2 separate regions of the Homo sapiens genome follow, and region 2 is linked to region 1. Evidence: fine-mapped expression QTL. A gene starts in region 1. The other region holds a variant in brackets. All regions are shown on one strand. Distances are between the middles of the regions.

Region 1 (4,393 bases):
ATACCTATTTTTAAGGGTCTTTCCCTTTTTTGCTCCTTCACCTTAGACATACCTTTTCTTATTTTAGTTCTTTAGAGTTTTAGCTCCCTTAACACATTCGGATGCATGGTTACTGGTAATAATGCCAAACCATTTAAGGAGAGCCAAAGAAATGAGGCAAGTAAAAATCATGCATAAAATGAAAACAATCTTTGAAAACCAAGAAGTTACGGTAATTGGGTCTCAGACCAATGCTTTTCCTTAAATGGAATTTGTCTAAAGAGCCACATCTTCCCCATCACCATTCTCTTAAGTATCTACACACAAATGGGGCATTAGTTGGAAATCAAACTAAATATAACCATGAAAACTTAGTCCATGATATCACGGATTGATGGTAACTTCTGAAGATTACTTTCTCCAATTCTTCACTTTTTTGCATATGTGATAAGGTCAGTAAGAAAATGTAGGAAATTATAGTTTAAAATAATCATAAGATTTAAGATGCTCTAAGTCCTTCTTGTTTCTAAGTGTATCAACCACAATTGAATGTTGAACTCTTAAACACTACAAGAGAAGACTGAGGTTAGGGGCAATTCTTTTCGATATATGTATAAAGGAATATTCCTTCAACATGGAAGTCTTGGAATGAATTTCATGTAAGAAGGGGACTGATGAATGAGGAAAGAAAGGAAGCCATCACCTGACATGCAGCAGCTCCCTCACCCCGTTTTCCTCCACCCCAAAAGCTGTAGGAAGTAGAAAGCTGCAGAATGTACCTTCCAGGCCAGGAGCAAAACATTGAGGATGGCCAGCAAGGGGCAGGGTCCGTTCTCATTCTGGGTGATGATGGGTGTGTTCTCTTCCTTCCACTGGATCCACTTGATGTGATACACAGATTGTCCCGGGAAGCGTTCCTTGGAGGCCGCCAGCACCTGAGCGGTCTCCTCCCCCTCCTCCTCCTTGCACAGAGGAACAGCCCCGGGCAACACCGCCGCGCCCTCCTCCTCCTCAGGGACCCTGTTCTCCGCTCCCTCCTCACTATTGAACTCGCAGCTACTGGGAAAAGAATGCAGGTTAGAGAACGACTCCAGAGAGTCCAGGCTCGGAGATTCCCCAGGAGGGCTCGGGTCGCTGCAACTGCTGCTGAGGCCGCCGGCGCTGCTGGGCTCTTCGGAGCCGGCGGCGGTCAGTTCTGCTTGGCAGGTGCCGGCGAGATCCGGGCGGGCTCCCGCGTCTCCGGCGGTACCCAACTCATGACCCACTCCGGCCACGGCTGTCTCCGGGGAGGCGGTCACCTTGTACTGCCCTCTCAGAGGCGCCTCGGCGGCAGCAGGACTCTCCAAACCACTGTCCTTCAAGTCCAAACCCGCGGAGGAGCTGCAGGGTCCGGGAACCTCAGGAGAGCCCGCGGGAGAAGCCGAGTCCGGGAGGCTCCTCCTGGCGGCCGCCGCCCCCAGCCCATTCCCGCCGCTGGTCTCCGCCGCCCATACCCCAGGACCATCACCAGCGGCGAGCCTGGTCTCCTGTAGCCCTTCCTGCGAAGAACCTGTCCCTGACGCTGGCCCGGCCGCCACCCCGTGTTCTAGCGGCTGCAGGCTCTCGGGGCTGCTCTCCATACCGGGCCGCCCGCCCCCAGCTCTATGGAGACCGCGGCCACTTCTCCGCAGCCAGCGCCTTGGACGCCATGACAGCTGTATTGGCAGCAACAGCGCCCTGGCGCGGCCTCGGTCAGGCACGTCACCGGGGAGAGTACTAAGAACGCGCGCGGGCGCGCGCTACCGCTCTGTCCGTGCGCTCTGAGCTTGCCTCCGCCTGACTGCGCGCTGAGAGGCGAAGGCGAACCACTCAGCAGCCGCCCACGTGGCCCAGCCCTTTCCGTGCGTCCGACCGAGCTCGCTCTCGGAAGGCCGGGCGTGGAGGGCGTGGCTAGGAGGGCGCGGCCGGGGGGCGCGCCCCCGCGGCTCAGCTCCAGTAGGAAAACATCCTCTCACTATGTGGCCGGAAGTTGAACTCCCGGGCAGCTCCCTTGTGTGCGGCTTCTTTAAAGGGAAGGCAGGAGGCGGACAGCTTGGCTGTGACCCTTTAGCGCTGGGTCGCGTGTGGCCCACCCTCGGCCTGAGGCATTGTTGGGTGGTTGGAGGTGGTTGTAGTATTTGGAAAAGAACTTGTCCCTGAAGGGCTCAGGGGACTTGGTTTCTCAGCTCCTAATATGGAAAATTAAGGCATTTCTTACGAGATGCAGATTTTAAAGCAGGCATATCTACTCGACGGCTTTGGATTACTGCACTGCACAAATTCCAGTCTCTGTCGGTTTTGGCTGAGAAGAGCTGTGCTTCTCACCAGCTACTGGTGAGACATTCGCCCTACAGGAAAGGGTCGGTATGATTGTGGACATTGACATGCGTAGCAAAAGAAAGTGGCTAATTTGCGCCAATAATAATAAATTAGCTTGTATTTGAATTAGCCAAGTCTTTGCGGTTTTGCTAACTTGGCTTCACTTTGCATGGAGTGGGAAGCGCCTGCTTCTGAAAAGGTGACTTTTTTCCTAATTAGAATGGACTCCTCTTAAGGCCATGCAGTTTTCAAAGAAGAAAGACAAGCTGGACGTTTTGTTAGTAACAAAATGTATGTGGGTCCTATTCTAACTTGTTACAGAAAAGGGCTTTTTCCCCCATCTTTTTTCTTTCAACATTTTCTAGGCTGTTGGGGATAAAAAATTAACGAGACAGGTCTTCCTTCGCAGACATATAAATACCTGATACATAATTAGAATGTGATATTTTTGCACCTCTGTTGGTTAGAGAAGGCAGACAAGATTGCAAAGTAGTATTTCATTCATTCCTTTAATACATTTTAGTACCAAGTAAGTTGCTGGATGCTGTCTGTCACTGGAGATGCCATAGTGGATCACGGAGCTTATATCTTCATGGAGCTTACTGTCTTTTTTTTTCTTATTGCTATTTTTTAATACATACTTATATGTTTTTTTGTTTTTGTTTTTGCTTTTGTTTTTTTTTTTTTTTGAAACGGAGTCTCTCTCTGTCGCCCAGGCTGGAGTGCAGTGGCACGATCTTGGCTCACTGCAACCTCCGCCTCCCGGGTTCAAGCGATTCTCCTGCCTCAGCCTCCCGAGTAGCTGGGACTATAGGCGCCCGCCACCATGCCTGGCTAATTTGTTGTTGTTGTTGTTTTTGAGACGGAGTCTTGCTCTGTCGCCCAGGCTGGCGTGCAGTGGCGCGATCTCGGCTCACTGCAAGCTCCGCCTCCCGGGTTCACGCCATTCTCCTGCCTCAGCCTCCTGAGTAGCTGGGACTACAGGCGCCCGCCACCACGCCCAGCTAACTTTTTGTATTTTTAGTAGAGACGGGGTTTCACCGTGTTAGCCAGGATGGTCTTGATCTCCTGACCTCGTGATCTGCCCACCTCGGCCCCCAAAGTGCTAGGATTACAGGCGTGAGCCACCATGCCCGGCCACACATAATATGTATTACATATAATACATGAATGTTGGATACTTATATTCTTGTTTACCTGAGAATGCAGAAGACTGTGCCCCTTTTTTTTTTTTTTTTTTTTTTTTTCCCACTTGAGACGCAGTCTCGCTTTGTCACCCAGGCTATAGTACAGTGGCGCCATCTCAGCTCATTGCAACCTCCACCTCCCGGGTTCAAGTGATTCTCCTGCCTCAGCCTCCCAAGTAGCTGGGACTACAGGCGCACGCCACCAGGTCCAGCTAATTTTTTTTGTATTTTTAGTAAAGACGAGGTTTCACTACCTTGGCCAGGCTGGTCTCTAACTTCTGACCTTGTGATCCGCATTGACATGATACTATGGTATATGTCCAACTGTAGGGTCCAGCCTTACGGGGCTTAGCGGGTGTTCTCCCCGTGTTCAGAGACGAGAGATTGTAATAAATAAAGACACAAGACAGAGAGATAAAGAGAAAACAGCTAGGCCCGGCGGACCGCTACCGTAAAGATGCGGAGACCGGTAGTGGCCCCGAACGGCTGGGCTCGCTGATATTTATTGCATACAAGACAAGGGGGCAGGGTAAGGAGGGTGAATCTTTTAAGTGATTGACAAGATGAAGCAAGTCACGTGATTACAGGATGGCGGGGGCCTTCTCTTTTAGGTAGCTGAAGCAGAGAGAGAAGGCAGCATACGTCAGCATTTTCTTCTCTGCACTTACAAGAAAGATCAAAGACTTTAAGACTTTCACTGTTTCTTCTACCGCTATCTACTACGAGCTTCAAAGAGGAACCAGGAGTATGGGAGGAGCATGAAAGTGGACAAGGAACGTGACCATTGAAGCACAGCACCACAGGGAGGGATTTAGGCCCCAGGACTGCAGGCAGGCCTGGATAATATCCAGCCTTCCACAAGAAGCTGGTGGAGCAGTGTTCCCTGACTC
Region 2 (4,393 bases), 290 kb before region 1:
GAGCACAGATAAAGGAACTGGAAGGGAAAGGAAGGAGTTAGGAGACTAGGAATTAGTAGAGGAGGACAGGTAGAGAGCCACAAAAGTTTATATGGAGGCATTGGAAGTTGCAGGAGTTCATGCTTAAGAACTTTCATTTATTCATTTTTTTAAAATTTCCCCTGGGGAATGAAAACCTTGAGGAAAAGGAGAGTGTTTTGAAATAGGCACTTAGAGGAACGAAAGGGAACTGATCAAGACAATGGTGATTTCCTACAGAAAGCCCAGGATTCGAAACCATAAATTTACGGAGGAACTTGGATAAGTGTGAAGCTAGATGGCTTGAATGTGAGGGTTGGAAATATTCAAAAAGGTACAAGATAAGGACGGGTTGTGGAGAACATAGTTGAACTAATGTTCCATAGGGTCCTGGAAGGAAATTGACCTTAAGAGAGGCCCATTTAGGACTGTAGCCAAGATGCTCAGAAATTAAATCTGATTTGTGAATGAACAAAGATTTATATATAAAAGTTTTTGGAATATTCTGAAATAAAGTTGGGACTGTATCACATAAAATGTACGTAAGAATAATGCTACACATAGGCCGAGGGTGGTAGTTCACACCTGTAATCCCAGCACTTCTGGAGGCTGAGGCAGGTGGATCGCTCGAGCCCAGGAGACTGAGGCCAGTGTGGGCAACACGGCAACATGGCAAAACCCCATCTCTACTAAAATACAAAAATTAGCCGGACGTGGTGGTCATGCCTGTGGTCCCCCATCTACTCGGGAGGATCACTTGAGCCTGGGAGGTGGAGATTGCAGTGAGACAAGATTGTGCCACTGCACACAGGCCTGGGCAACAGAGTCAGACCTGTCTCACAAAAAAAAAAATAATAATAATAATAATAATAATGCTACATAAAGCTACAACAGGAGACAGGAGTCAATGAGAAGTCAAATCCCTGCCTCAAAAATTATTACAGTTTTGTCAAGGTACTTAACTTCTCAGGTTTCTTCATTTCTGAAATGGTAAGAGAAATGCCAACATCAATAATTTATTTTTTAAAACAGGGTCTTACTCTGTCATCTGGGCTGGAGTGTAGTGGTGCCCTCGAGGATCACTGTAGCCTCAACTTGTCAGGATCACATGATTCTCCTGACTCAGTCTCTGAGTAGCTGGCACTAAAGGTGTGTGTCACCAAGCCTCACTAATTTCTGCAAGTTTCTGTTTTTTTGTTTTGTTTTGTTTTTTTCTTCAAAAGAGACAAGGTTTCACCACGTTGCCTAGGCTGGTCTTGAACTCCTGGCCTCGAGTGATCTGCGTCCCTGGCCTCCCAAAGAGCTGGGATTACAGGTGTGAGTCTCACCATGTCAAGGATTTTTTTTTTTTTAAGAATTAAAATATATACAATAACATATAAGATACCCAAGTAACAAGCTAAGAAAAGAGTATGTACTCAACAAATGAAATAAAAGCCCATTTCATTTCTGCCTACATTTTTTCAGAGAATGTTTTTAAAAGACACCCCTGGGTACAGTGGTTCACACCTGTAGTCCTAGCTACTTGAGAGACTGAGGTAGGAGGATCACCTGAGCCTGGAACTTCAAGACTGGCCTGGGCCAAAAAAACAAAAAAGATACTCCTGGGAAATCTCCTTGAGAATGTTTCTCAATTCTGCCCTCAGTTTTCCAGGGGAGAGAATACTTCCTGATCCAGCCACATGTAGTTTTCTAATCTGCTAGATGTAAATTACATGAATATTAAAAGAATTAAATGAGATATTATTAAAAGCAAAAAGGGATAGAAAATATAAGATGGTTTCATTATTAATGGTGATTTAGTCAATCCACAAGCTACAGGGTCTACAGTGTCCCTATT[G/C]GTAAGCAGTTAGCAAGTTCCTATCTCTGTACCATTATCCAAAAATGAAAGAAAGTTAGTTTAAGGCTCAGTTAAACAAAGGATATAAGAGAGAGCCAGAGATATCACTGCTAATTGAAACGTAAGAACTAGCTTGAGATAAGAGCTAAAACTAAAGAAAGCTCCAGAATAAATTTTTGTGACCCTGGATTAGGCAACGGTTTCTTAGATATGACACCAACAGACCAAACCATAACCAAAAAACCCCAGAAAATGGATATCACCAAAATTTTAAAAACTCCCATCCCCATTCTCAATTATTTTGGGAAGATAACTAAGGAGTAGACTTAGTGCATCCAATGGTAACTCTATTTTAACTTTCTGAGGAACCATCAAAGTGTTTTTCTCAGCAGTTGCACCATTTTGCATTCCTACCAGCAATTCGCAAGGGTTCCAATTTCTCTACATCCTTGCCAACGCTGGTGATTTTCTATTTTTGTTTGTGTTATAGACACCCTAGTTGGTGCAAAGTGGTATCTCATTGTGGTTTTCATTTGCATTTCCCTAATGATTAGTGATGTTGAGCATCTTGTGCTTCTTGGTCATTTGCATAACTTCTTCAGAAATATCTATTCAAATCTTTTCTCATTTTAAAATTGGGTTGTCTTTCTGTTGGGTTGGGGCTTTTTGTTTGTTTCTTTTTACTTTTTTATTTTTTAAATATAAATAGAGATAGGGTTTCACCATGTTGCCCAGGCTGGTCTTGAACTCCTGGTCTCAAGTGATCCTCCACCCTCAACCCCTCAAAGTACTGGAATTACAAGCATGAGCCATCACACCCGGCCTGTTGGGCAGTTTTAAGAGTGCTTTGTAGATTCTGGATTCTAAAGTGCTTATCAGATAAAGGATTTGCAATATTTTTCTTCCCCCCATTCTGTAGGCTGTCTTTCACTGTCTTGATAATATCCTTTAATGCACGAAAGTTCTAAATTTTGATGAAGTCCAACTTATCTACTTTTGCTTTTGTTGCTCATGCTTTTGGTGTCAGCCATTTGCTTCTCCCCAAGCTCTCTTATTTGAGCTATAATACTCTGGTTACATATAGCACACAAACTCAAATATGAAATCAGCCTAATTATAATAAAGACTACCTTGATAACATATGAAGTTTATTATAATGTAAGAATACCCGCTTATTAACATAGCTAAAATCTTAGACTTAAAAACAATAATACTTTTCCTAACGAAAGTAATGACAAAAAGTCTCCCCTCCCCCACTTTTTTACATACCTCCTATAGAAGTGCCAGTGGTACTATTGCTTGTAAGAGTAGCTGAAGTCTCTGACACTGTGGAAGGTTGGCTACTGGTGACAGCTGAAGCAGTATCAGAGGCCTGCTCAGAGGTAGATGGATTTGAATTGTTAATGGAAGCGCTAGTAGCTTGTGATTCCATTCTTGCAGAAGTGGTTGGTACTACAGTAGGTTCTACAAAATACAAAATGTCAACTTAGCATTTCAAAACAAATTAGATAAAGGGTTATATTTTAATGTAAGCTAATGTGTTTATAATTAATAAATAAAAAAACTTTAAAAATACAAGCTCTCTAATAACATTTGGTAAAGAAAGCGTTCACAAAGCTAAACTGCAATATCGAACAGACGTGTTACCAAAATATTACTGCATTTTAAAAAAATCCAACACCGATATGCTTATTCCAATAATTTAGGTGATTTAACAGTTTTTCAGGTAGCTTCTAAATAAGTTGTCTGATCTATCACAAAGAAGAAAACAGTAAAAGGAAATAAAAGTTCCTTACTATGCACGTACACATGGTCACGAGCTGCCAGAACAGTGTTACAAACCACACTGTCTGACACAATATGGATTCTAGGGTAAGACTGCCTGGATAGCAATACTGATTTCACCACTGACAGTATGAATATAAATAAGTTATTTAACCATTCTCCATTTCCTCATCTGTAGAACTGGGAAAGCATCAGAATTTTCTTCATAGAACTGTCATTAGGATGAACTGAGATCACATACTTCGTATGATGCCTTACAGAGAGTAATCACTTAGCATTAGCTATGATTTCCAATAACTGTTTTAATCTCCTTTCCATGCCTTTTTATATGTTTTCCAAAGAAAATTTTGTAAATATTAATACTCATCAGTGCTTTCTAATAAAAATTAACATTTTTCTATCAGAAAGTAAAAGAAATTTCAGGTAGACTTCAACTTATGAGTGAGTTAAGTTTCAAAGAACTAATTTTAAAATGGTTGCTTAAAATTGAGAACGGTAGGAATAAATCCATCCAAAGCATAGTCACGACAATTAAATCTGAAAAGAAGGGGGGTCTCTTAATGTGCTATGGAATGAGAGGGTTGACTTTCTATACAATGCAGTAAGGTAAGCTAATTCCTTAGGCACAAATAGTACCTGTGAATCTATATGGGACACTTTGAATGCTAGTATGTCCAAATGCTTGTATATGCAAATTGCTTGTACATAAAAAAGGGGGAAAAGAACTTCTGTTTATTTGTAAATAGTTTA

The links. PIP is the estimated chance that this variant, and not a neighbour inherited with it, causes the effect. A credible set is the group of variants that fine-mapping cannot tell apart.
Region 2: its variant is the best candidate, but not a certain one, in a credible set for the expression of MINDY2 in whole blood (INTERVAL, PIP 0.79).

What each region holds. Positions count from the first base shown.
Region 1 is chr15:58,768,601-58,772,993 of GRCh38, reverse strand. MINDY2 (MINDY lysine 48 deubiquitinase 2) reads right to left here and starts at 1,692. Exons shown (of 9, transcript NM_001040450.3): 1 at 759-1,692. The coding sequence starts at 1,598. MINDY2-DT (MINDY2 divergent transcript) reads left to right here and starts at 2,020. Exons shown (of 2, transcript NR_135474.1): 1 at 2,020-2,607; 2 at 4,115-4,393. RefSeq lists a silencer at 1,738-2,017 and an enhancer at 1,830-2,755.
Region 2 is chr15:59,057,285-59,061,677 of GRCh38, reverse strand. RNF111 (ring finger protein 111) reads right to left here. Exons shown (of 14, transcript NM_017610.8): 5 at 3,128-3,322. Among named protein-coding and RNA genes, the nearest start is that of CCNB2, 46 kb to the left of the region's middle. The variant G/C (reference allele first, on the strand shown) is at 1,859.